Linked DNA regions of Homo sapiens: regions 1, 2, 3 and 4 are each linked to region 5. Evidence: fine-mapped QTL for protein levels in blood plasma. A gene starts in region 5. Each other region holds a variant in brackets. All regions are shown on one strand. Distances are between the middles of the regions.

Evidence for each region. PIP is the posterior inclusion probability: the model's chance that the variant is causal. The UK Biobank Pharma Proteomics Project read protein levels with antibody pairs (Olink). The fine-mapping took linkage between variants from a reference panel, not from the people measured, so its PIPs are less certain.
Region 1: its variant is fine-mapped to the plasma level of the PTPRB protein (UK Biobank, PIP above 0.99).
Region 2: its variant is fine-mapped to the plasma level of the PTPRB protein (UK Biobank, PIP above 0.99). The variant lies in the coding sequence of PTPRB. If it changes the protein, the assay may bind it differently, which can mimic a change of level.
Region 3: its variant is fine-mapped to the plasma level of the PTPRB protein (UK Biobank, PIP above 0.99).
Region 4: its variant is fine-mapped to the plasma level of the PTPRB protein (UK Biobank, PIP above 0.99). The variant lies in the coding sequence of PTPRB. If it changes the protein, the assay may bind it differently, which can mimic a change of level.

Annotation. Positions count from the first base shown.
Region 1 is chr12:70,588,036-70,593,141 of GRCh38, forward strand. It overlaps PTPRB (protein tyrosine phosphatase receptor type B), which reads right to left. Exons shown (of 34, transcript NM_001109754.4): 7 at 4,247-4,510; 8 at 1,929-2,198. Among named protein-coding and RNA genes, the nearest start is that of PTPRB, 47 kb to the right of the region's middle. The variant AT/A (reference allele first, on the strand shown) is at 3,066.
Region 2 is chr12:70,529,038-70,534,143 of GRCh38, forward strand. PTPRB (protein tyrosine phosphatase receptor type B) reads right to left here. Exons shown (of 34, transcript NM_001109754.4): 32 at 2,998-3,133. The region is part of intron 6 of PTPRB-AS1 (PTPRB antisense RNA 1); the gene reads left to right. Among named protein-coding and RNA genes, the nearest start is that of PTPRB-AS1, 64 kb to the left of the region's middle. The variant C/G (reference allele first, on the strand shown) is at 3,047.
Region 3 is chr12:70,603,936-70,609,041 of GRCh38, forward strand. The region is part of intron 4 of PTPRB (protein tyrosine phosphatase receptor type B); the gene reads right to left. Among named protein-coding and RNA genes, the nearest start is that of PTPRB, 31 kb to the right of the region's middle. The variant G/A (reference allele first, on the strand shown) is at 2,624.
Region 4 is chr12:70,594,134-70,599,239 of GRCh38, forward strand. PTPRB (protein tyrosine phosphatase receptor type B) reads right to left here. Exons shown (of 34, transcript NM_001109754.4): 5 at 1,916-2,194; 6 at 334-591. Among named protein-coding and RNA genes, the nearest start is that of PTPRB, 41 kb to the right of the region's middle. The variant T/C (reference allele first, on the strand shown) is at 2,141.
Region 5 is chr12:70,635,441-70,640,546 of GRCh38, forward strand. PTPRB (protein tyrosine phosphatase receptor type B) reads right to left here and starts at 1,989. Exons shown (of 34, transcript NM_001109754.4): 1 at 1,901-1,989; 2 at 231-626. The coding sequence starts at 1,955. It overlaps PTPRR (protein tyrosine phosphatase receptor type R), which reads right to left. Exons shown (of 14, transcript NM_002849.4): 14 at 2,639-3,837. The coding sequence ends at 3,744.

The DNA of each region.
Region 1 (5,106 bases), 47 kb before region 5:
CAGTGAGCTGAGATGGTGCCACTGCACTCCAGCCTAGGCAACAGAGCAAGACTCTGTCTCAAAAAAAAAAAAAAAAAAGAAAAGAAAAGAAAAGAAAAGAATAAAGTGTTGCTGCCTTAAATTATGAAAGAATCAAGTATTAAAAATTTTCTTGTAAATTTTGCATCCATAAATTTTCTATAAATCCATTCTAATTGAGTCCCTAACTCTCCATCTTCCTTCTTCGGTATAGAGAAATAATTTGATTATTTACATCGAGGCCTACTTCAAGTTACCTGAATAAGGTGAACCAGAGACACAGTTTAAGAAAAGTTTGGGCCGGGTGCAGTGCCTCATGCCAGTAATCCCAGCACTTTGGGAGGTTGAGGCGGGTGGATCACCTGAGGTCAAGAGTTTGAGAGCAGCCTGGCCAATATGGTGAAACCCCATCTCTACTAAAAATGCAAAATTAGCCAGGTGTGGTGGCACATGCCTGTGATCCTAGCTACTTGGGAGGCTGAGGCAGGAGAATCGTTTGAACCTGGGAGGCAGAGGTTGCAGCGAGCCAAGATCATGCCATTGCACTCCAGCCTGGGCAACAAGAGTGAAACTCTATCTCAAAAATAAAAAAGAAAGAAAAAGAAAAACAAAAGTTTGGCCTGGCGCCGTGGCTTGTGCCTGTGATCCTAGCACTTTGGGAGGCCAAGGTAGGCGGACTGCTTGAGGCCAGGAGTTTGAGACCAGCCTGGCCAACATGGTAAAATCCTGTCTCTACTAAAAGAACAAAAATTAGCTGAGCCTGGTGGCACACGCCTGTAATCCCAGATACTTGGGAGGCTGAGGCACAAGAATTGCTTGAACCTAGGAGGTGGGGGTTGCAGCGAGCCGAGATTGTACCACTGCACTCCAGCCTAGGCCTGGGAGACAGAGCAAGACTCTGTCTCAAAATGTAAAAATAATAAATAAATAAATAAAAGTTCTCCTGAGAATTATGCTGACATGCTGAGAGCCCCTAATGTTCTGTGATCTTCCATTTCCAAGTTATTTGAGGTGAGTGATAAAATATTGGAGATGACAGAGATGCTTGTCCTGTGAAATACTAAAAGTCGCTTAGTTTAAGCTCTGTAGGTCTTTGATCATCATCCAGTGGATATTAATATTTGGAAGATGAGGAGATTACTGCAAGACACATTGGCAAGCTAAGTGGGTGTCATGATCCTTTTCTTTGACATTGTTCTAAGAAGAACAGTGAATCCATGTAGTTATTTCCCTATTATCAGGCGAACTAAGAAAGAAGGTATTTGAATTTCACTCTAAATATGGAGTATTTCACATTACAAGGATTATCAAGCAAATGTTGAACTTGGAAGTGCAACTCTCTTATTTGACAATATGAGTACAAGTATTTGACAGTATGAGGATACTGAAACATGAGTCTTGGTATTCTTGCTGTCACGATTATATTGCAAAGCTTTGGGCAAGTTATAACCTCTTTGAGCCTGTTTTCTCATTTCAGTATCCTTATTCTTCCCTTCCCTAAAATCCAAATATATCCCTCTCCACTTTAATCACTCTTCATTGGTACCTGAAATCCCCACATTAGTCAACATGAGGTCAAGGCAATGGTTCCCTAATGCTGATCACTAGCAAAAGGTTCTTCTTTTGTGGGAAGGGTCAGTGTTTGTTTTCAGAATGTATGCATCTTACTCTTTTGGTGTTTGAAATGGCTTTCTTTCATGAAATAATGGAGTTACTAGTGGAAGTGATTTTAAATGTTCTAATTTGACAAATTAGGTGTTAGAAACCCCATGTTAGCCTTAAAGTCCTTAATATCTCAAATTCAGAAAACACCAGGGTATGATATTAGCAGTTACGGCAGTTACCTGGGTTACCTGGGAGAGGGAACAAATTACTCTTCCATTGGTATTAACATCTTCATATTTGCCTACCTGTCCTGCCTTGGCAACGCTCAGAATTCTTCAAATTTCCACTCTCAACAATGACTTCCACCTCATACTGTCTTCCCGGTACGAGCCCCGTGTCATCCATGACATACTGTGTTTCTTCCTTTCCCACAGTGATGTTGAGCAGCACCACAGAATCATTGAAGAGTAGGATCCGATACTGCTCCCAGTCTCCAGCAGGGGGCGACCAGCTCACTACAAGAGACCTCATCCTGCCATTATTGTTTGCCTCCAGGTTTGCAACTTTGTCTGGAACTAAACGGTGAAATGATGTCAAAAAGGAGATATTACAGACCAAAAGTAAGGATACTCATTTACTTTTCTTGGGCAGCAGTAGATAGGAGACACAATATCTGCAGTTCAAAACATTTCTATCCCCTCTTGATGTCTGTGGATTGCAAATGAGTGTTCTTTATTTCGGAGACATTTGACACACAAGAAATGTCCGCTAAAATCATTTTAGTGATATCAGTAATGTAATCTTCTGTTGTAGTGTTAATAATCTAGTGATATGTGGCATCCTTTGTAAGAGATATTGGATGTCGTGATCATGAGGCATTCCTTTCTTTCTTTTCCAACTAAAAAGATTAATGTTCTTGCAAGATTAAGTTCTTTTTTTTTTTTTTTTTTTTGCTTAAAAACATTCAAGGTCTCTCTATAATCTGCAGAATAAAATGTCAAGCCCTCTGCTTACATTTTTGGCTCTTTAAGTTCAGACCCCATATCCTTCCAGTCTTAACTGAGACTACTTTCTGAAGCCATCCTCTCTCCTTCCCTACCCTTTGGAAAGCTGGCTTCCGGTTGTATGTTCTGTAGACCTGCAAGTCTCCTGGGCCCTTCTGCCTCTGGGCCTTTGCTTATTTTGTCCCCTCCACCCCAAAAGCTCTTCCCTCTTTTCCCTCTTTGTCACAAACGTTACATTTTTTAGGTCCTTATTAAAGATCATTTCTATTTCCTCCAAGTTTTTTTTTTTTTTTTTTTTTGAGACAGGGTCACACTCTATTGCTAGGCTGGAGTGAAGTGATGCAATCATGGCTCAACCACAGGGCTCAAGCAATCCTCCCAGCTCAGCCTCCTGAGTAGCTAGGACCACAGGCACATGTCACCATGCCCAGCTAATTA[AT/A]TTTTTTTTTTTTTTTGTAGAGACGAGGTCTCATTATGTTGCTGAGGTTGGTCTCAAACTCCTGGGCTCAAGCAACCCTCCACCTCAGCCTCCTAAAGTGCTGGGATTATAGCCATGAGCCACCGCACCCTGCTCCCATTTCCTCCAAGTTTTTACTGCTCTTATGAAAGAAAATTTTATCTTTCCTTTTTGACCATATATCTCTTACTTCAGATCTCTAATAGCAGAGAGAATGGACTCTGGAATCAAATAGCCTGGTTTAAATTCTAGCTCTACCACTTACTGGCTGGATGACTATGGACAAATTATTTGACCTCTTTGAATTATCTGTATAATGGTAATAAATAACAAGACATCTCTCACAGTTTTGTTGTGAGAACTAAATGAAATAATGGATATAAATTATTTAGTCAGTGCCTGATACATGCAAATATCAATACAGTCACTATTATTAAAATGTACTATTTTTATTTTTGTACATGTGTGTATTCCACATCTGTGTGATTAAAATGAAAGTTTTCTAAAGCAGGAGTTGGACAATTTTTTCTGTAAGGATCAGGTAGTAAATATTTCAGGTTTTGCAGGACACATATGGTCTCTGTCTCATCTTTTTCTTGTTTGTTTCCTTATTTGTTTGTACAACCCTTTAAACATGTAAAAACCACTCTTAGCTTGAGGGCTAAACAAAATCAGGCCACAGACCAGATTTGGCACCAGATGGGGTAGTCTGCTGGATCCTGCCTTAAAGGCAAGTAGCATGTCTTAGTCGTTTTAACAATAGTACAGTAATTTACATATATAAGGCACTGGATAGATAAGTGAGGACATAAATTAATAAAATAATGTATGGAAAACATGGTTAAATGCTAACTGGTTCTCACTGTAAGAATGAATCAGAAATGTTTTATATACTGGTATCAATGCTAATGCATTTATGCTACTTAAGTGACGTGACATGAAAAAGCATAAGACAGAAACAACATGCAGATCATTCAGAAATCCAAACTCAGTTGCCTAAGTGACTCAGAAGAATGGGCCATACTACAGACACCTTCAGTTACATAGGCTCCACTTCTCAGATTGGGAAAGGAGTTTTCCTGCTGACTTATTTTGTCCTATTTTAAGGTGGATCAGAGAGTGATTTGAGCAACCAAGGAACATTCTGGAGCCCAAGACTCACATGTTCTGCCCACTGCCATCTTCTGAGCAGACAGTTCACCAGAGACACAGCTGACAGTAACTTGATAAAGTCGACCGGGGACTAACTCTTTAAAGTGAGTTTCAGTAATCCAAGGTGCTAATACTCTGGATTCCTTGATGGTCCCTTTGTGAGACAGGGTGATATTGTAAGAATCCACATTTCCAGGAGGTCTTTGCCATTTGACTTTTAGAGAGGTCAAACTGCCATCATTTGTCACCTTCAGATTTGAGACTTCCATGGGGGCTAATCAGGAAAGAACAGAAAGGAGACTTTTACTCAGGATCTCTCACAAGTCCTATGGCCAAATTTTGACCTGTAATTTTATTTCTGCAAGCCACATTCCTTGCTCTGGAGAAAACAAGCACTTCAAGAGGCAAATATTATCCTCTTCAGATGGTGAAAAAATAAAAATAAAAAAAGGTTTTAAAGAGGCAAAAAGTAATGTTGTAAAACCAAAGGTAGGCTATATGCCTAGTGGCAAGGCCAAAACCTTGGCAGGCAGAAGCCTGGATTCTGGTTCAGACTGGGCCATTAGTCAGCTGGGAAACTCTGGACAGCTCTTTCTAGTTCACTGAGCCTTATGGTGTTTCTTATTGGCAAATGAGGCTAGGTCAAAGACCTACAATGGTCCTTTCCAGTTCAGAAATTCTTTAAGTGGAATGCACAAAAAGGTCTGCCATCTGCCTCATTTCTTATCGCCTTTATATATTAATATTCAATAATATTGAGTACATAGTAAATAGATCGATCAATTGATTGATTACAAAATTTTATGTGATAAAACTACTTTAATTTTTATATTAAATCATGATAAAGTTAATGAGTTGTGTTACTACTTC
Region 2 (5,106 bases), 110 kb before region 5:
CATGTACAGGAATGGAGAATATCACAAAGAATGAAGACTGAGAGAAAGGGTGGTGCCTTGAGGACAAAACCTTGGGGAACTCAAACATTAAGAAGGCAAGCTGAGGAACTATGCCACAGTGTCCTCAGTGAGGCAGGAGGAAAAGGAGAACAGAACAGGGAAAAGATGGAGTTATTTCTAAGGAGAAGGAGGAAGAGGAACATTGTGTTACCTCTGCTCTGAAAGTCAGCCAGTGATATTGACAGTAGAGTCCCTCCTAGTTGCCAAAATGCATTATGAGTTTGGGGCAGGTGTATGGAGGTGATACATGGCCCAAGAATCCTTTGACAATTACTAGAGCACACAAATACACACAGTTTGAGACTATTTACAATACGATAACCTCCTCTTTCCCAAGTTACAAATTAATTAGGGTTTGAGTTTGTGAAAGTGACAATAAACTAACAAAATATTAATGCTGACTTTTTAGCAACATAATTGTAGGATATTTGTTCATTCATTTAAAAGATTAAAAAATATTGAGGATATAGAAGAGGAGGAAAACAGGCTCCCACCCTCTAGGAATGCATAGTCTTGTGGAGAAAGCTGAAGGATAATAATTAATAAGAAGGATAATAATTAATAATTATGATACAGGGTTATATAATTCTGCAACCTTTGATGAAATAACAGCGCTAGGCAGAGGTCATCAGTGGCTGCTAAAACCATTAAGTGAAGGGTTGATGGGGATAATGAAGGGTTCAGGCTGACACTGCCTGAACTCACTGTCAGTTTCCTCAGCGCTGAAAGAGAGACAGACATGGTGATCTGCCTTCTGATGTCATGCAACAGAAAGCCCTCAGCACCACCCATGAAGCATTGAGTTTAATCAGGCCTCTAGATCTAACCACCAGCTGACAAAATCCATGGGGAGTAGAGGAAAAATCCATGGGGAGTAGAGGAATATATTACCACCATGAAAAAGCAATCAGCCACATCTAGAATGTGGGAAAATCTGCCGAAGAAATCAGCTGGCTTCTTTAACAAATAAATATCATGGAAAACAAATGGGAGGGAGGATTATAGATTATAGAAAGATTTCAGAGACACTTCAACCAAATGAAATATGTAAACTCTGGATTCTAATGAAAACCAAATATAGTTTTTTATAAAAAGTAATTTTTTGAGATAATTAGGGATATTTAAATACTGACTGGATATTAGGTGAGATTTAGGAATAACGGTTAAGAAAGACATAGATGTGATAATGACATTGTGGTCATAGTTTTAAAGAGTATCTCAAATATACATATATATGTATACATGTTCACATGTACACACTTATATACCCGTACATATGTATATATGCAATATATGTAATATCACATATGCATACAAATGTACACATATAGGTGTATACATATACACATGCACATATACACATGTACACATATATGCAATATGACATGTATTACACACATACATATATACATACACACGTGTACACATACATATGTGTATATAAGTATATGTGTATTTAAGGATGAGATAATATGATAAGTGGGATTTGCTTTAAAATATTTCAGTGGGATAAGGTCATGGGGTAGGGGAACATTAAATGTGGGATACAGATGGGAAAAGAACACAGAATACTGATAATTGTAGAAGCAGGGGTTTGGGTACATGGAAACTCACTATACTATTTTTCCTAGTTTTGTGTATTTTCTTTTTAAAAATTTTTTGTGGAGATGGGCTCTTGCTATGTGGCCTAGGCTGGTGTCAAACTCCTGGCCTCAAGTGATCTGCCCCTCTCCAGGCCTCCCAAAGCACCAGGATTACAGGCATGAGCCACTGTACCCAGCCATGTTTTGTATATTTTTTCAAAACAATTTCATAATAAAACATTCAAAATATGGTAGAATCATTGTTATAATGAAAGTACTCCCAGCCCAGGACAATAGTGGTGGCAGAGGTTCCTGCCTGCAGGAGGCAATGATGCCATTGTTTTGTCAAATGTGAGTTCTGCAGAATATTTTTAATTTTTATTTTCATTTCTCTGGTTCAATTGTTACTGGCTTGAATGCAGGATATTAATATGTGCTGCACAAGAAAAGAATTCAGGGGTCAAGGTGGTTTTGGGATTAGTGGGTTCAATAAAGCTCAAAGGGGGCCTTGGCTGCAGGAAGCTCTCTTTTTATGGAGCATTGCTGTCTGTGCATTGTCCTTGGGTACTGTGGCTCTAAGAGGGGACACAGAAGCATGTAGAACTTTTTACTTTTCCAACCATGGATTTTTTTTTTTAATACAGAGGATTTTGCTTAGTTACTTGGAGAAAAACTTGTGAAACACGAGGGTAAGAGAATTTGAGCCTTAGAAGGCATTGATGCAGAGGAGTGAATGCTTGGTCTCTATTGAGGAAGAGATCTGACCCTGAGGCTAGTACGCTTATAGCACAATCAAGGGCCCAGGTTTCTCTAGAATAGTGGCCAAGCCACCTCAGCCACTTCATGGCTGTGGGCTTTGTGCAAAGCCCTTAAGCTTTTGGACCTTCATTTTCTAGTCTGGAAGTAGAATATAATATGTCTCGCTTGGTTATTGTGAAAATTTAATGAGATAACATGTTCAAAAATGCCCTGCAAATGTCAAAGTGCTGCACAAATGGAAGCACGTGGTCTTTACCATCTACATACACTCCCTTGGGGTCTCCTGAAATGGGGGTGTAGGTGGAGGGAGTGGGGCTGGGGGAGAGAAGAGATTGGGATCTTCTTCTTTCCTAAGTGAAGTTCTTATGCTCATCTGCCAGCCTATCTTAAAATGATCCCCAAGATGGTCACCTTCAAGACCAGTGAGATTTGTTTTAAAATAACAAGTCTTAGAAAATATCTACATGCAGTTCTTTTTTTCTCTTCCTAATGTGTCATAGTTATTTCCCCTTGTCAGATTAAGGTCCTGGATATTTTTTTGTGGGAATACAGTGGGGAGGAGGGTGGCCTGTAACTTTCAGTCTATAACTCTTACCTCAGTCTGGACCATGTGAACCCTGTGAAGTCTTAGGTCGTGCACTGCT[C/G]CATAAATGTCCACAGAGTCTTTGGAGTCTAACTGCTGGAGGATTCGGTCCAATGCAATAAAGGTTCCAGTCCTACCCACACCAGCACTAGAAGAGATGGCAAAGGAAGATTGAGCCTTTTTATTAAATTTGCCTTTCAAGATTGCATCTAGAGACTCTGGCACAATCTTTTTTTTCCCTTCCCAGTTATGGGAGAAGATAGGAATATTTCTTTCTCTCAAATAAGTTTAACCTAGAGTCCCCCAACCCCACCCCCCCACAGCCTTCTATCTCTTTCCACTCCCTTCCTGTCCCTCCTCCACTCTACCAGGGATAAGTACTGCTCTGCACTTACTGTGTATCATTTCCACGCATGTTTTTAATACTTTTCCTACATACAGGTAAATCTATAAACATTTATGTTTGAAAAATCTACTGAAATGGTAACATATGTGCTTTAGGTATCTTTTTGTCAACTTTCCTACTCAATATTATGTTTTCAGATTTATCTATATTGCTACATATAGATCTTCTCGTTTCTTCTTTCCTTCCTTCTTTCTTTCTCTCTCCTTCCTTCCTCCCTCCCTCTTTCCGTCCTTCACAGGGTCTTGCTCTGTTGCCCAGGCTGGAGTGCAGTGGCACAAGCATAGCTCACTGCAGCCTCGACCTCCCAGGTTCAAGCAGTCCTCTCACCTCAGCCTCCTGAGTAGCTGGGACCACAGGCATGTGTAACTACTCCCAGCTAATTAAAAAAAAAGACTTGTAGAGATAAGGTCTCCCTAATAGTTGCCCAGCTTGGTCTTGAACTCCTGGCCTCAAGTGATCCTTCCACTTTGGCCTCCAAAGTGCTGGGATTAGAGGCAGGATATACCACACCCAGCTGATCTAATTTCTTTTAATTAATTCTCTTCATAAACCACTGCTAATCCAGTGGCAGTGAGATCATTTTAAATTTTTCTCTATTAAAACATGTGTTGCAAAGAACATGAATATATGTGGAGATTTCTCAGGGGTCAACACCTAGAAGCAGAACTCTTGGGTTGGTCATGGGCATGAACACCTTCAGCTGCACTAGGGATTGCCAAATTCCTCCCCAAAATGGTTGTGTCATCTGGGGATTTTTGATACACACATTTATAAGATAACAGTTCTCCAGTGGTCCTGGACAAAAATGCCTGCCATTTTTCAAAAAGCAGAAAGCTCTGAGGTGAGTGCCTCACCTTCCTATTAAAAGTGTCAAGGTTCCAAGGACATAGGAAAGCAGGGCTCCTAGGGTGCTGGGCTGACAGGGAGGAGATGAGTACACTTGGCATTTCTCTTACTGCTGCAGTTCCCTGCTCCATATTTATTAGTGCCATTCAGTTAGGGCTATCAAAATGTTGCTGCAAACATTAATTTGCTAGATACCAGGCTCGCCAGAGAGAGAGAGATTTCACTTGTTAGGTTGATTTTCTGGACAGACTGAAGCAAAGAGAAATCAAGAGAACAAATTTAAGAGAAAAAATTAGGTGCTACAGGTGGCAATTGCTGTGCTGTGGTTTGAATGTTTGTGTCCCCTCCAAAAATTCATGTTGAAACTTAATCTTCAATGCAACAGTATTAAGAGGTGGAGGAGGTGATTAGGTCATGAGGGCTCTGCCCTCATGAACGGGACTGGTGCCTTGTGAAACAGTTGGAGGGAACTAGCTAGGTTCTTTTGCCCTTCCATCCCTCCCTCTATGTGAGGACACAGCCTTTGTCTGCTCTGGAGGACACAGTAACAAGGCACCATCTTGGAAGCAGAGACTAAGCTCTCAACAGACACTGAAGCTGCCAGTGCCTTGATTTTGGACTTCCAGCCTCTAGACTATGACAGATAAATTTCTATTATTTATTATCCAGTCTGTGGTATTTTGTTTTAGCAGCACAAATAGACAAAGACATGCTACTAGACCTGGAGGGAAGATTAGAAAATAAATCTTGAAGGATAGGTAGGACTTAGGTGGAGAAGAGAGATAAAGCCATTCCAAAATGGAAGAATGGCCAGAGGCAAGAATAAGCTTGTGTGCTCACTTTCCTGGCTAGAATGTGAAGGGAGTTAT
Region 3 (5,106 bases), 32 kb before region 5:
TGGTCAGTATAATATGTATTTCATACTGTTACCAATTAAACATAATATGTGGTAGTCTTTTATATGCTATAAAAGCACAAAACAGGCTGGCCACAGAGGCTCAAAACCAGCCTGAGCAACATAGGGAGACCCCATCTCTACAAATAATTTAAAAAACTAGCTGGGTGTGGTATTGGGTACCTGTAGTCCCAGCCACTCAGGAGGCTGAGGCAGGAGAATTGCCTGAGCCTGGGAGGTCAAGGCTGCAGTGAGCTGTGATTGTGCCACTGCACTCCAGCCTGGGTAACAGAGCAAGATCCTGTCTGAAAAAAATTAAAAAAATAAAATAAAATTTTAAAGAAGCACAAAACAAATACTAGAGTACTCTTCTCTTCCTGGGAAAGATAATAAATACTCCTAGGCATTATAGATTTGATCATGCATTAAGAAGAATTGTATCAAAATCTTAATGCCAACAAATAATAGAAAAATTATGTCAATAGTTCTTAAACTTGTGTGCATCGATTCACTCTGATATTTGTTTAAAATGCAGATTCCCTCAGCTCTATTCCTTCTAAATTCTAATTCTTTCCATGTGGGGTAGAAACCAAGAATATGTTTTCATAACCAGCTCTGCAAGATATTTCGATGCAGGTAACCTACAGATATTAAGAAATGATGGCTTATGTTTAAAACTATAGAAGTATTAGGGGATGAATTGTGTCCCCACCAAATTTATATGTTGAAACCCTAAACCCCAGTACCTCAGTATGTGGAGATACGGCCTTTAAAGAGGTGATTAAGTTAAAATGGGGCCATTAGAGCGGGCCCTAAGCCAATATGACTGGTGTTCTTATGAGAAGACATTAACAGACAGACAACAGAAACAGAGGTACCACTATATGAGGACATGCAAAAAGGTGCCATTTGCAGGCCAAGGAGAGGCCTCAGAAGAAACTAAACCTGCAGACACCTTCGCCTTGGACTTCTAGCCTCCAGGATTGTGAGAAAATAAATTTCTGTTGTTTAAGCCACCTAGAGTCAGGGGTATTTTGTTAAGACACTCCTAGTAAACCAATACAATAAGAAGTGGAAATAATAGCTGATATGGTGATTCAACAATTAACGTTCCTAAAATGTTTTTTATTAAAGACAAGTTAGCCATATTAAAATAATTAAAATCATTTGAGAGGTTTTGTTTTTTATTTTTCTAGGCTGACTAATAAGTAGCTGAAACTGACTTAACAAGAGGGAAAATGCTTTTAAAATATTATTTCTACAGGTAAAGTTATCTACCACTACAACTCTTCCCTGGGCTCTGTAATCTACCCATAATCCAATGAGAATAGAATATATTTTTAGTATATGTACATTCTCTCACTAAAATATTAATTTCATTCATTCACATCTACATGCTTATCTGTATCTATATATTGGTCTATCTATCTCTTCTACTCATCATCCGTGCCCAGATCCACCATTCATCCATCTTTCCATTCATCCATCTATCCATCCATTTAATCAGTATTTACGGAACACCTACCATGTATTAGATGCCATTTAAGTACTGAAAACCTACTTCTTATTGCCAGACAAATAAATGCTCCCTAAAATTTTCAAATGAAAACCACAAAGTAGAAGTCACAAATTCAAATGTCTTTAGAATGCATTCAGGTAAGGAAATGAATGAAGTGGTATTCCAGTGAGTTGGTATCTAAAAGGAGAAGACACAAGTCAGCTCTAGAGAGTTTTAGGCACAGTTTTGCCAAATCTTCCAAAATTTTAAGAGAATCCATACATTTGGGTTTTAATGTGAATTTTTGATTTTTAATGCTGGTGAAATGATCTGGATGTTTTCACAAACACTACATGAGCCAAACACAACATAGTTATTATTTAGACACCTAGCTATCTCTAGAGGCTACCAGTTTGCAACCTCTGCTCTAGACTCTGAGTACAGTCTTCAAAAGTGCCAAGTTTAAGAAGAGCTCTACAAGAAGTGAAAAAAAAATGCCAACTTATTCCATATCTGGTATGTTCATTGTCTGATTTCTGGTGAGTTCACACTAAATACTTTGGCTTTCAAAGGATATTCTTGTTGCGTTGACCGTTTAATGACCAAGTAAACCTGAGAATTGCCAAATATCTTGTCCTCTATGGTTATGAAAGCATGGCATACATGAGGCAGAGTAAAGTCCTCATCCAGAAAAGATGAGATAAAGCTCTGTTGCCACTTTCATCATAACCGTCTCTCACCTCTGCACGAGACAACAAGGTCAGGAACCACTTTTTGTTAGTCATCTTTATAAGCTTACTAATCACTACCTGGCATAGTTCCCAACAGTATTATGTTTGATACATGTGCACTGAACTGGGTTTAAATCCATTATGTTCTTCGATTCTGATTTTAAATCTGGAATGGAAAATGACTATTGCTGAAATATTGCCCATTTAATTCAATTTTTTTATCCTTAAGGTCGTGTCTATATGACATGAAAATAATGAGCTATTTTAGACAGTTTATCAGGAAAAATAATCAGGCCAGTCACATTTGGAATGATATAGAGATCATCTAAGCAACAACTATATTTCTATCCAAATCATGTCTTGCTCTCATTCTATTTTGTTTTAGACTGATAAGACA[G/A]GCATAATAGAATAAAGAAAGCACAGATATTTTCAATTACTTTTTTGTTTGAAGTTTGTCTGAGTTTGAATATTATACTAGTTGGCATTGCTTTAATAACAGTAAAATATGATTTATGCATCTCATCTCTATAGCTCAGCAATTAACATAGGGGAATACTAGTACTTTGTATTAACTAAGTGAACAATTCACATATGTCCTTAAAATGTAGAAAGAACTACTGACAAATAAATAACAACCGACTAAAAAATTCCTCCCTGAAACAATTTTTAAAATATCTTATTTAAAAAAGTAATTTAAATCTAAACAACCATCATACAAATACATGTGGGAAATTTATCATTATGCAAATACCACCTGCAACTTTCATGCTTCACATTTATCATGCAGCTCATAATATTTGTAGACAAGTAAAGTGTGTCTCTTTAAGAAAAATGGTGAGAACCCTGAATGCTAGCACATTGTGGATGCTGATGAAGTCTTGTTTCACTCAACATGGTCAATAAAATGCAAGTATTTCTTACATTTCAGAAATGCCTCTGGACTTGAATACCTACTTGCATAATTAAACTCAAAGCCTATTCTAACTAATTACACCCACAGTAAGTCCTTTTCCATTACTGTTTTTCCAAAAAGTAAATCCTCTGGTTTAAACAACCATATTCTGGCTTCTTAAAGGTCTTAATCTTTTCTCCAACAAACTTCTGAAAGCTCAGCCTGCTTTTACAAATTGCTCTGCTCCACTGAACACATACACTAGTTGGCCAGATGCCTTTCTAAACACAATTAACACATCTGTAAGTTCTATGTTATGTATTTCACAGTATTAGCAATATGAGTATTTATAAGAACTATCCTGTAATATTAAGAAACCAACAACATTTGGACTAAAAACCCAGCCTTTCAACTTTTGTAAAATGTTCTAATTATGTGGTCTATTTCAGGCTCTCTGATTCCATATTAGAAACCACCAGATTCATTTTCCTTTTCTTTTTTTTTTTTTTTTTGAGACAGAGTCTCCTCTGTTGCCCAGGCTGGAGTGCAGTGGCACAATCTGGCTTCTCTGCCTCCTGGGCTCAAGCAATTCTCTGCCTCAGCCTCCCAAGTAGCTGGGATTACAGGCGCCCGCCACCACACCAGGCGAATTTTTTATTTATTTATTTGTTTTATTTTTAGTAGAGACGAGGTTTTGCCATGTTGACCAAGGTGGTCTTGAACTCCTGACCTCATGATCCACCTGCCTCAGCCTCCCAAAGTGCTGCGATTACAGGTGTGAGCCACTGCGCCCAGTCAGAGAAACCACCAGATTCTTAACAAGCGATTTCTCTTTTCAACTTAAGATGCTGCAAATCTCAGATATCATCTAAAAGTTTCATCTGAAGTAAGTTAAGTGATGTAATTGGGCATTTTGATTTTTTTCTTTGAAAAAAAAAGATAATATCTAGTTGACTTACTACATGAGCCCAGTTAAATTCTCTGAAACTGCTGCACCTGCCTTTAGAGCTGAAAGTTCTCACACCTCTTTGAAGAACTGTAGCAAAAGAAATGATCCTGTTTCAGGTTGAAATGTGAAAGAATACTAAGGGCAACACATTTCTAAATTTGACTTTTAAAATTTTAACATAAATTTGAATCTCTGGATGAAGGTAAGGATACACTGTTGCAACAAATAGAGATAATGAAGACTAATGAAGTCAGAAAACCTGAAAATTGTTAAAGAATTTAGAGCATGTCTGAGGGTAGCTCTGAGGATTAAATGAGGTAATGTACATGACAGCCCATACCTAAGTGTTGAGCACTTGGTAAGAACTTGGACTTGAATGACCTAAGTCTAACACTCCCATTTTACAGATAAGAAAACTGAGGCAAGAAAGGCAAACTCTGAACATATCCACATGGAGGGATTCAGCAAAAGTGTAAGGAAAATAATTGCTGTAAAGTAATCAAAGGACGTTCTCTGATACTATGCTGTTTGGGTTATTACTCAAGAGATACAAAACAATTTTCATGTCCTCATTTCAAGAGACTTTTCTAATTTTCCCTGATGAATGGCTCCATTCTATTCCTGCAGATTTTATGTACAGTTCTAAAAATAAAACTAAGTTGAGGAAAGGCATACCCCTAATATTGTACTTCTATTATTTATTCTAAAAACGTTTACTTAAAATTATTCCAGGGTTTGACAATTTAATGCAATGGAAGCGTAAACCACATCACTTTAAAAAATTCCCACCGCAGCCCAAAGTTTCTCTTTGCTGACCGCCCTGCACCCCACCCCGACCCTTTCAGTAGCTAGTTGGCTGTTTTCAGCACTAAGGGAGTCTCTGAAAGTCCACCAAGCTGCTTCTGGCTAGATCCGAGGAAACCAGACATTTCTGTCAATATTTATCTTCACAGGTATTTTTACCTTCATTTTTTGTATCCCTGGAACTCAAATGAAACACCAGCTTGAAAAGGCAGGGCCCAACCCCGTGTGGCTTGGC
Region 4 (5,106 bases), 41 kb before region 5:
GTGAGTGATGTCATAAAGACAGCAGTTGCCTGTTTAAGAAAAGGAAGTAGGAATCCTTAGCAAGGAGATAGAGTATTAAAAAGAGAAGAAGAGAAGCTAGGTCCATATCAGTAATTAACTTTGCCTACTTCAAAATGTTGCCAAGGGCTAGCCTAAACTTTAGAATAAAAGAGAATCCTTCTTTTTCTGAGTAGAAAAGTGGATATGGGTCTTCTATACCTTATAAGAATTTCAATTTGTCCTATATTACAGTTATTCATATAATAAACTTGACTTATTAAACATTCCCTTGATTTCACTTTATTCTTCTTCAGCTAGCTAGGGGGAACTTACCTGTCCTGACTAGTTTCCACCTGTAGTTTTGCAGCCCTGCAGCCTCAGTCATAACAGTGAGGTTGTAGAGGTAGCCAGGGGTCAGCCCGTGAAAAGCATAGGAAGTAGCATGTTTGTCCACAACACCGCCATGAACTAGGATCCCTTTATCCATTAGCATCAGCCGGTATCGTTCCACATTCCCAGAACCATGGGACCAGGAAATCAGGAGAGAATTGGCTTTTGTGGAAATACCAATATCTTTCACTGGAGATGGCACTAGTGGGATAAAATGCATGTCCAAATGTCATTAATAATTCCCTTATAGGAGACATAGACACATTTAATTAGAAGTCACATATTCATTTGTGTTCCTCTGTACATCTTAACTTGATAATAGCATTAGTAAATAACAGGATTCTGGAAATTTCACTGGAACTTTGATTAGTGCTCTTTTCAAAGTCTGCAGCCTCAAGTTACATCATAATTTACTTGTCTGCCTCCCCCACTTAATAGGTATTAAGGTGGCTTTTGCCAGTGAAGTATATAACATTGCACAGCAGTAAGTAGAAGAGAGAAAGGAAAGAACTATAGAAGATGAAAAATGGAGAGGAAGATTTAAAAAAGAGAGGGAAAATGTGGCACATATACACCATGGAATACTAGGCAGCCATAAAAAAGGACGAGTTCATGTCCTTTGCAGGGACATGGATGAAGCTGGAAACCATCATTTTCAGCAAACTAACACAGGAACAGAAAACCAAACACTGCATGTTCTCACTCATAAGTGGGAGCTGAACAATGAGAACACATGGACACAGGGAGGGGAACATCACACACGGGGACCTGTTGGGGGGTGAGGGGGATAAGGAAGGGATAGCATTAGGAAAAATATCTAATGTAGATGATGGGTTGATGGGTGCAGCAAACCACCATGGCACGTGTATACCTATGTAACAAACCTGCATGTTCTGCACATGTATCCCAGAACTTAAAGTATAAATATCCCAGAACTTAAAGTATAATAAAAAAATTTAAGAAGAGAGAAAATGAGGGGAGAGCAAATGACATGAAAGACATGTACTTTATGGAAGGAGGTAGTGATGTGCCATGTATATCATAATATGTGGGTGCACAGATGCCTTATTTTTCACCACATTGGAGAAACAAAGACTTGTTTCAAACATAGGAATAGTTAGGAAACATTATGACTTGATGTTATGAGAAGAGTATACAAAGAATAAAAACATCTAAAAAATAAGTTTTATGGCACAAACTTAGAAAATGGGGCAGAAAGTCTTGTTGCTTTGGATTTGAGTTAGAAGGGCCATTAGGGAGTATCCATTCCAAGTTGGAGAAAACTCCAATTCCACAGAAGTCCCATGACTTCTTCAAAACCACTCAACAAGTTACCAGCATAGCCACGCATCCTATTTTCAGTCCAGTCTGTCCACTGTATCCCACAAGCTCCTTTTAAAAATTTAACTAATTGCTAATTAATTAACTTTGCTCTGGAGTAGCAATCTTACTCCTATTCCTTGAATAAAGTATAACTTGAAAAGTATCCTATTAACTACTCAGCTATAAAATAAACAGGTCTTACCTGTTGATCCATTGGTATAAACTGAAAAAGAACGTTTTCCTCCAGAAACAGCTGTGATGGCAATATTGTATTTACTACCAGCAGTGAGATTGAAAAAAGTGTATTCATTCCATGAAGTACTTTCTTGAATTTGAACCCCCTGTATCTTTTGGTTATTTTCATCAAATAATTGCACCTCATATGAGGTGACTTTTCCGGAAGAAGGAGTCCACCAAACATGCAAGC[T/C]GGTTGAAGTCGTCTTCTCTTTACTGACTCCAAACCTAGCAGGAGGTAAAGGATCTGCAAGGCAAATACACACACACACACAAAAAAAAAAAAGAAAGAAAAAGAAAAAAAAAGAACATGGCTTGAAGACTTTTGCAAATAACTGCTTATTTTACTGCAGTCCAGGTTCATTTTTCTCAAAAATCTGTTATTTGTGAAATAAATTGCCATTTTGCTTCACTTCCAAACCTACCCTTTCACTTTCTTAAAAAAAAAAAAACCCATTTAGCTACTAGTCATATGAATTCCTTTTTCTACTGAAACTTTTTTTGTTGTTGTTAAGGTAGCTCTGATCTTGAAAGTCCAAGCAAAGTTATATTTTCTTTGGCTTGCAGTTTAGCAACTTTTTCAAACATTGACAAACATCCAGGTTATGCCTGGATAAATACTGAAGATCTCAACAGAAAATCTAGATATTAAGAAATAATTTGAAATATACACTGAACTTCTTCCTAGGTTGTAGATTGTTGGTGTCTAGTATATGTAACTTTGGGTGGTTTTTAGATATTAGACAACCACAAAAGATACACATCTGATTATAAACCTAGGATAGGGTTGCTTACCAAAATGGATTCTCCCAGTAGCTGGGATTCCCTATATCCCTAGATTTTTTTTTTTTTTTAAGATGGAGTCTCGCTCTTGTCACACAGGCTGGAGTGCAGTGGCGTGATCTCGGCTCACTGCAACCTCCGCCTCCCGGGTTCAAGCAATTCTTCTGCCTCAGTTTCCCGAGTAGCTGGGATTACAGGCACACGCCACTGTGTCCGGTGAATTTTTTTTTGTATTTTTAGTAGAGACAGGGTTTCACCATGTTGGCCAGGCTGGTCTCAAACTCCTGACTTCAGGTGATCTGCCCGCCTCAGCTTCCCAAGGTGCTGGGATTACAGGCATGAGCCACCGCATCTGGCCCCCTATATCCCTAGGTTTTTAAAATCTCAATTTTGGGGCACTTTGGTGCTGCCAGAGCACCCAGAGTAAGTGGGAATGGGCAAATCTTGCACCCAGCTGTTCACCTTATTTCAACTCTCAAAGCCAAGGATCAGTTTGAGAAGTCCTGCTTTGCCTATGTTGAATCTCCACCATTGAACTTGAATAGAATAAAAAGCATATCAGGATTAGGAACTAAGTCAATGATATTTAGTGAGCAGCCATTCTTTTGGTACAGTGGGGAGTAAAGTCTAAGAAATAAGGGGCTGCCCCTACCCTGAGTGCTGAGAGTAGAACTATTGAGAGACCTCTTTATGAGAAATTTTCAGAAATCCAACATGGTTCTTGGTCTAGAAAGTGGGATCAAGATATTGGAGACCAATATTGAAGGGTCAGGTCAGATATTATAATGGCATGGCTATAGAAACTTCACTACTTCCTGGTAGACTATATTGTGTTCACAATATAACACCAGGAATTCTAGACCTTATTAGAAGATATAACCTTCTTATATGTTTTAAGATGATATTCACTTGTAATTTACATATAAAAGAAATAAGATAGCCTTACTCTATATTCAAAAGGCAGTTATAAACAGACAACTCATAAGACTATGTATGGCTGACCAATAGACACCATAGGCTTAATAGAGCCTATGAAATCTAATGTTTCTATGTTTTATGCTATGATTTATGCTAAGTACATCATATTGCAAAATTATATATGCCACATTTATAACATCAATAATTAATAATAACATAAATGTTAGCTGACAAGCAAGCTGAGGCAGCAGTAACTATGACAAAAATTAACAGAGTGCCCGAAACACAGGTGAGCTTGGAAGACAAGGTTGCATGGTTCACACCACAGCACAGCCCTTTGGTTCACCTGAAGAACATATGTTCTAGGGTTTGACAGCCCGGGCTTGAATTGGGCTCTCCTATTTGTAGCTGTGTGCTTTGGGCAATTCCTTAACCTCCCTGTGCCTCAGTTTCCTCATTTATGCAATCCTGATAATAATATCTTTTTAGTAGAATTGTTATGAAGATTACATTGAATATTATATAAAAAGTAGTTAGAACTGTATCTGGCACGTAGTAAGTACTCAGTGTTAGCTGTTATTATTTTTATTATTCCTATAATTAGGTGAAAATATTGCCACAGAAGCAGTGAAATGTAATGGCAGACAGCATGGGCTTTGGAGTCAGAATTAAATTTAAATCTCAGCTCTAACAAAGTCATGAGACTTTGGGCAAGCTATTTAACCTGTCTAAGCCTCCACTTTCCTATCTGGGGAGTATAATAATAATACTTATATTCCAAGGCAGTTTTGAAAAGTAACAAGATATAGAGGAGTCTATGAGATTCTAATAGCCAGTGAAACTCAAGAACAATGCTGTCGTACCCAATTGAGATGACATACTTTTGCTGAAGTGGCATTTTAAGGACAAGGATGAGAGGGACAGCTGCTTCCAGTGATAGTTCAAAAGGGATCAATACTATCATCTACATGTACTATCAAGCCAGATAAAAATTTTAAAAAATAATGTCATGATCAGTAGAATCCAAACATATATAATCCACAAAATATGAGATATAGAAATAAATTTTAAGGTTGCGTGTCTAGAGGGTGAAGTTCAGAAATGCAGACTTTATCTAATCTTTCTGAGCCAGAAAACAAAACAGTCAATCCTTTGTACATCCGCTAGAACAAAGGAACAATGAGACTGGGAAGTGCCTGGGCTGCGAGAACCTGCACTGGAAACAAACACTTAAAACCCCATTTATACTGTGATAAAGCCCTTTGCTGGCAGTTGTCCACTATTGCTATGCATGCTGCAGAAACTAAATAGTTTTCAGACTCCCTTTAAATCTAAGCCCAATAAAAACTCTGATGGATTTAAAAAGTTTTCAAAATTTTATTAGATACTTCTATCAGGGGTGCACATTTCATATAATATGACTGTGTGTGTATGTATTAAATATATGTATATAGATAT
Region 5 (5,106 bases):
GAAGAAAAAGCAATAGAAAAAGTTGGGCTTATTTTAATGAGGGTCATGAAGTTTTCCATCATTGGGCACGTCACCATCCACCTCCATTAGCTTATGAATCTTCCATAGGAAATATGTTGGGGCATGTGGACTTCCCTTAAATGTAAAACAAACAAACAAACAAACAAACAAAACCCCCAAGATATTTAGTAGAAAGACTTTCAGGATTTGCTCTGAAAGGAATAGCTCACCTTTTTGTAAACAGAGGCTTTCATTGACCAGTTTTCCCTCCTTGTTGACATCTATTTTCATCCAGCTATGGAGGTATTTCCTGGCCTTCTTGACCACTACTCTGGAGCCTTGTTTCTGGAGAAAGAGAGAGGCATTTTCCACCTCAAGGAAGCCTTCCTGATCATAGCAGGTCCATCGGGGTGCCTGGGAACAGCGGTCCAAGATGGCTGAGCGGGAGGGGCCGCGGGAAGAGTTGGAGATGGCCAAGCACAGTGCAGATTTAACATGAAGGAGCTTTTCATCCTCAGTCCACATCCACTGCTGGTTCTGGATGGTCCTGTTGCATGAGCCCACGACCACTTTCTCATTTTTGAAAAGACACTGTTGTTTCTGGACATGGACAATCTGAAACCCTTCTGGAAGATGAAAAGCTCATAAAGCACTATGTAGCAAATTATGAGGCCCATTAGAAAACGGAAGAACCCACCCACAAATGAGCTAAATAAAATCACTAGTTTTACTTATATTTTGTTATTTCTATCATTTCAAGTGAACATTCTCATATTTAACACATGTGATTTAAAATTCCAAAGCTGACGATATAAAATGTCAATATGTTACACTTAACTCCCCATCTTTTTTTTTTTTTTAATTTTCACATGCTTTAGGGGAAAAAAGCACACCTCTTATTGGAAAATGAAAGGAAGCTTGGAAAGAAACAAAACCATCCAAAGTATATAGTATATTTTAGCCCAATTAGTTAGATATGCTGAAGTTATGAAATGCTCAGCTCCCTTTTTAACCATTTGACATATTCGATATAAGCTTCCTCCCTTACCTTAAAAAAGCACCCCCTTTTCCAGTCTTTAAATTCACATTGCAGTATTTATATACAAATTTCATAGTTTGAATAACAATTTTTTAAAATTGCATACATTTATCAAAAAATAAAACAAATTTTCCCACTTCTCCAAGCACAACCTCCTAGCTAATTGCAGCCAATGAAAGTATTGATTATCACAAACTAAATTTCCTTTAGTCGTGGAGAGGAGCATTTCTCTATTTTATGACAATATCTACAGTTTTCTCTCAAATACGAATAGATTTTCTAAAAATCATCATGTGCCAGTGTAAGAAAATTAAACATCAAATTGCTAAACATCAGTATTAAAGAGCAAGATACTCTGGCTCAGAAACCATTTTCAATGAGGTTTTACTTAAATTGCCCAGCTCGCTCATGAAAATGTTCAGCCCTCCCAAATGACAACTTCCAAATAAAACACACTACATTTCCTCACCCCCTTTAATCATATTCCTTCAATTTTCTTTCTTCAACACAAAAGAAAATAAAACTATAACCGGGTCGGAAAAAGGCTTGGGGAAAGCCACAGACTGTTATATAATAATACAAACTTTTCCTCGGGGTTCTTTACGCTCTGCTCTAAATGTATCATTTCAGGGGCTGCCTGAAGCATTTGGAGGATGAGAGGAGAGCATTTATTTTCTTTTGGAGAGAAATCTCAACAGTATGGGCATAGCTGGCTCCTTTTATTCCTGCTTTTCATCGTCTTTGGCTAAACTGCCATGGAGACCTGGCCCCTTCTACCTTATTTCAGACACTTCAAAGACCAGGGACTCCTTGGCTAGATCTTGAAGAAATGCCTCAGGACACTGAGGCAGACCCACTCACCTGAGTTCCTGAAGATCAAGCAGGTAAGAATCACCATGTAAAATTCAGCCTCCATTTTCCACTTAGCAACTGTTCATGCTTCGCTTGGGGAAAAAAAAAATTCTCCCAGATAAGAGAAGCAAAGACTAGGAAGGAAATGTGCCTTCATGGTGGGGGGAAAAGTCAGTGACGAGCACTTCCTCCTATTGAATTGTTTGGGGAAGTTTTACACCAGTGTCCTTTTGTCTGTTTCCTTAGAAAGAAGGGATTATGATTACCTCTTTTTTTTAATGTAGAAAATATTCCAGCCTTCAAGAGCAGAGTAAATCTCGTTAAGACCTCACCTACCTTTCCTTTGGCATGTGACTGCTTCTTAACCTCAAGAAGAAAGAAAGGAATTGAAATCTCAGATAATTGAATGTTCCTGAAACATTACATCTCTTCAGGTGATGTGATTCTGCTGAATAAACATAAGCCATGTAATTGATGAGGGTCTATGACAAGTGATATAAAGACATAAACATGTACTGTTTGTATAATGATATGCTGCGAGTCTATTGAGGAAAACCACATAATGATGGCACTTCTAGATCATTATCTCCCAAGTGATGACAATATTACATTTTGAGATCGTCATCTTCACTGGGGAGATGCAGACACTAAAATTAAACCCATCACATTATCTACTTTGGTCTTCCCCAAACAGAGGATGGCGTCTTTCCAAATAGAAAAAAAAAAAAGAATATGCTTTACTCAGTATTTAGTATTAAGAGTTTATTGGCAGTATGAAACAAAGTCAACATTGCTGCATTAAAAATTCATATATGAGCAGAACAGCTAGTGTTTGCTGAGGGTAGTTATTTTAATTTTTTTTGTCTCTTGAAGATTGAAAGCTTTCAGAAATGTAAGGACATACATGGAAATGTCCTTATAAGGAGCCTCGAAAATGGGACAGATTATATCATTCCTGAAGGCATATACCTTTTGTTGAGAGAGAGATTCCAGGTAGATAGCATATTCAAAAATCCCTTCTTAGCAAAAGAGAGACAAGTAGTTAAAACTCTTGATACTTCAGAGTTGCTACAAATTTGTTTTTCCCTTTTAAAGTAAAATGACTCACGATGTGGAAATACAGTGGATAGAGTTCTGGAGCAGAAGCCACCTTTATGCCCAATAATAGAGAGTAAATACATATATACCCAATGACAATCATTGTGCTCTGTAATTGTTTGATAGGAGGGACTATAAATACACATTTAATAGGTAATATTATCAAGACACATTTCCATATAAAATAGTTACTGTTTTTGATTTTTGTTTTTCAAAAACAAAGACTTCTCTGTTAAAAATCCATTATCAATCACTTGCAACTTTAGCAGCAAGATTCTGGTAACTGAGAAAGGTAATAGCACTTCAAAACAGGAACAGTTTAACAGCTGACAGTCCATTCACAAGACAGATTTTGCAAACATTAAAGCATCTAACACATAATACGAATGTCTTCAGCAGCTCATCCAGTCATCACCTGATGACATTTATTACTGAATATTACATACATACATTCTGTGTGGCAGATAGAGTCAGTACAGACAAAACAAAATCTGCCTTAGGCTGTGTGATAAACCTATCATACCTCCATCATCAAAAAACCTTCAGAATAATTTGGGGGATGCTTACAAATGCATTCATATACACAAGGAGCTGGAAATCTTAAATATGTTGCCCAGTCTTCCACAATCCATGCCATACATGGGCTTCAGAGCTTCTCCTTCCTTCCATTGCAGGAAGCTCCTTCTAGAAGCCTTGGGTGGGTAATTTGATTAATCACCCCAAGAGATTGATGGTCTGACAAGTCTTCAATGACTCACTGGACAGTCTCTGCTGAAAGTCTGCTCTCATACAGGCACAGAGCATGGTGCACAAATTCATACTGCTCACTGGTTTGCACCATTCCACCTCTGCAAGGAAGAAATCATAAAATAACTGATTTTGCTAAAATCTTGCAATTTCAAGTAACACAGAGATTTCATCCAAGCTAGGGTATTATGCCAAAGACACATAGAACAGTCGACCTAGTGGTTCTTTTGTTATCCCTCTTACCTGTGTCCAAATGTCTCAACTATCAAAGTTAACATGGTAATGTATATAAAGGGCTTAACACAGTTCCCAGCACACACTAGGCACGTGATTAATTTTTACCTGTGTAACATTACTGGGGAGGTGGTACAGCCTAATGATCAAGTACTTGGATTTGGCATCAGCCAAGGTGAGTTCAAATCCCTCCTCTGCCAATTCTTAGCTGTATGCATCTTGGACAAATTCCTCGAAACCCCTTGCACTTTAGTTTCTTCCTCTGTTAAAGCAGGATAGTAACAGTAACTACTGCTGTGAAGGTTAAATAAATTCATTGTAGCTGGTATATTTGTATTACTTCTCAGGTGCCTCATGATTCATCTCTTGTTAAAATGGTTTATACATTTGGCTTAAAATTGATTGACGGAGACAAACCAAACAAAACTCATCTGCAAAATGTTGCTTTCTACAAGTAAAATGAAGTCTACCTTGGAATGGTTTATTTGAATATGTTGTACAGAAGCAACCTTAGCCTTTTGGTGTACGGGGTGTCTAAACACAATAGTGGGTGGGTCCTTAAATGAGTTGGAAAAAGGGAATTGGCTCTGCTGTGACATTTTCCTCTTGGTTATCACCATTATCATCACTAGCTGCCCAGCACCCTCCTTGTCAATGGATTCATAGAAAGCACTTGCCTTCATGAGAAATAACGGTGCTTCTCATTATGTTTTTATATACATAATACCTATATCACATTTTCCCCCTTCATAATTATGATCCTTTTTTAATTTTAGTTTTTGAGAAAACGTCTCCTTAATTGCTTAGGCTGTTGTGCAGTGGCATGATCACAGCTCAGTGCAGCCTCAACTTCCTGGGATCAAGCAATTCTCCCACCTCAGCCTCTGGTGTAGCTGGGACCACAGGCACCACCACACCTGGACAATTTTTAAATTTTTTTTTTCTTGTAGAGACAAGGCCTCACTATGTTGCCCAGGCTGGTCTCCTGGACTCAAGTGATCCTCTTGTCTTGGGCTCCCAAAGTGATGGAATCACAGGCTTGAACGACGGTGTCCAGTCCTATAATTATGATTTTTTAGCTTGACAAAGTTACCAGACATTAATATGTTACTATTCCTGCTCACTGTATAAAAGCA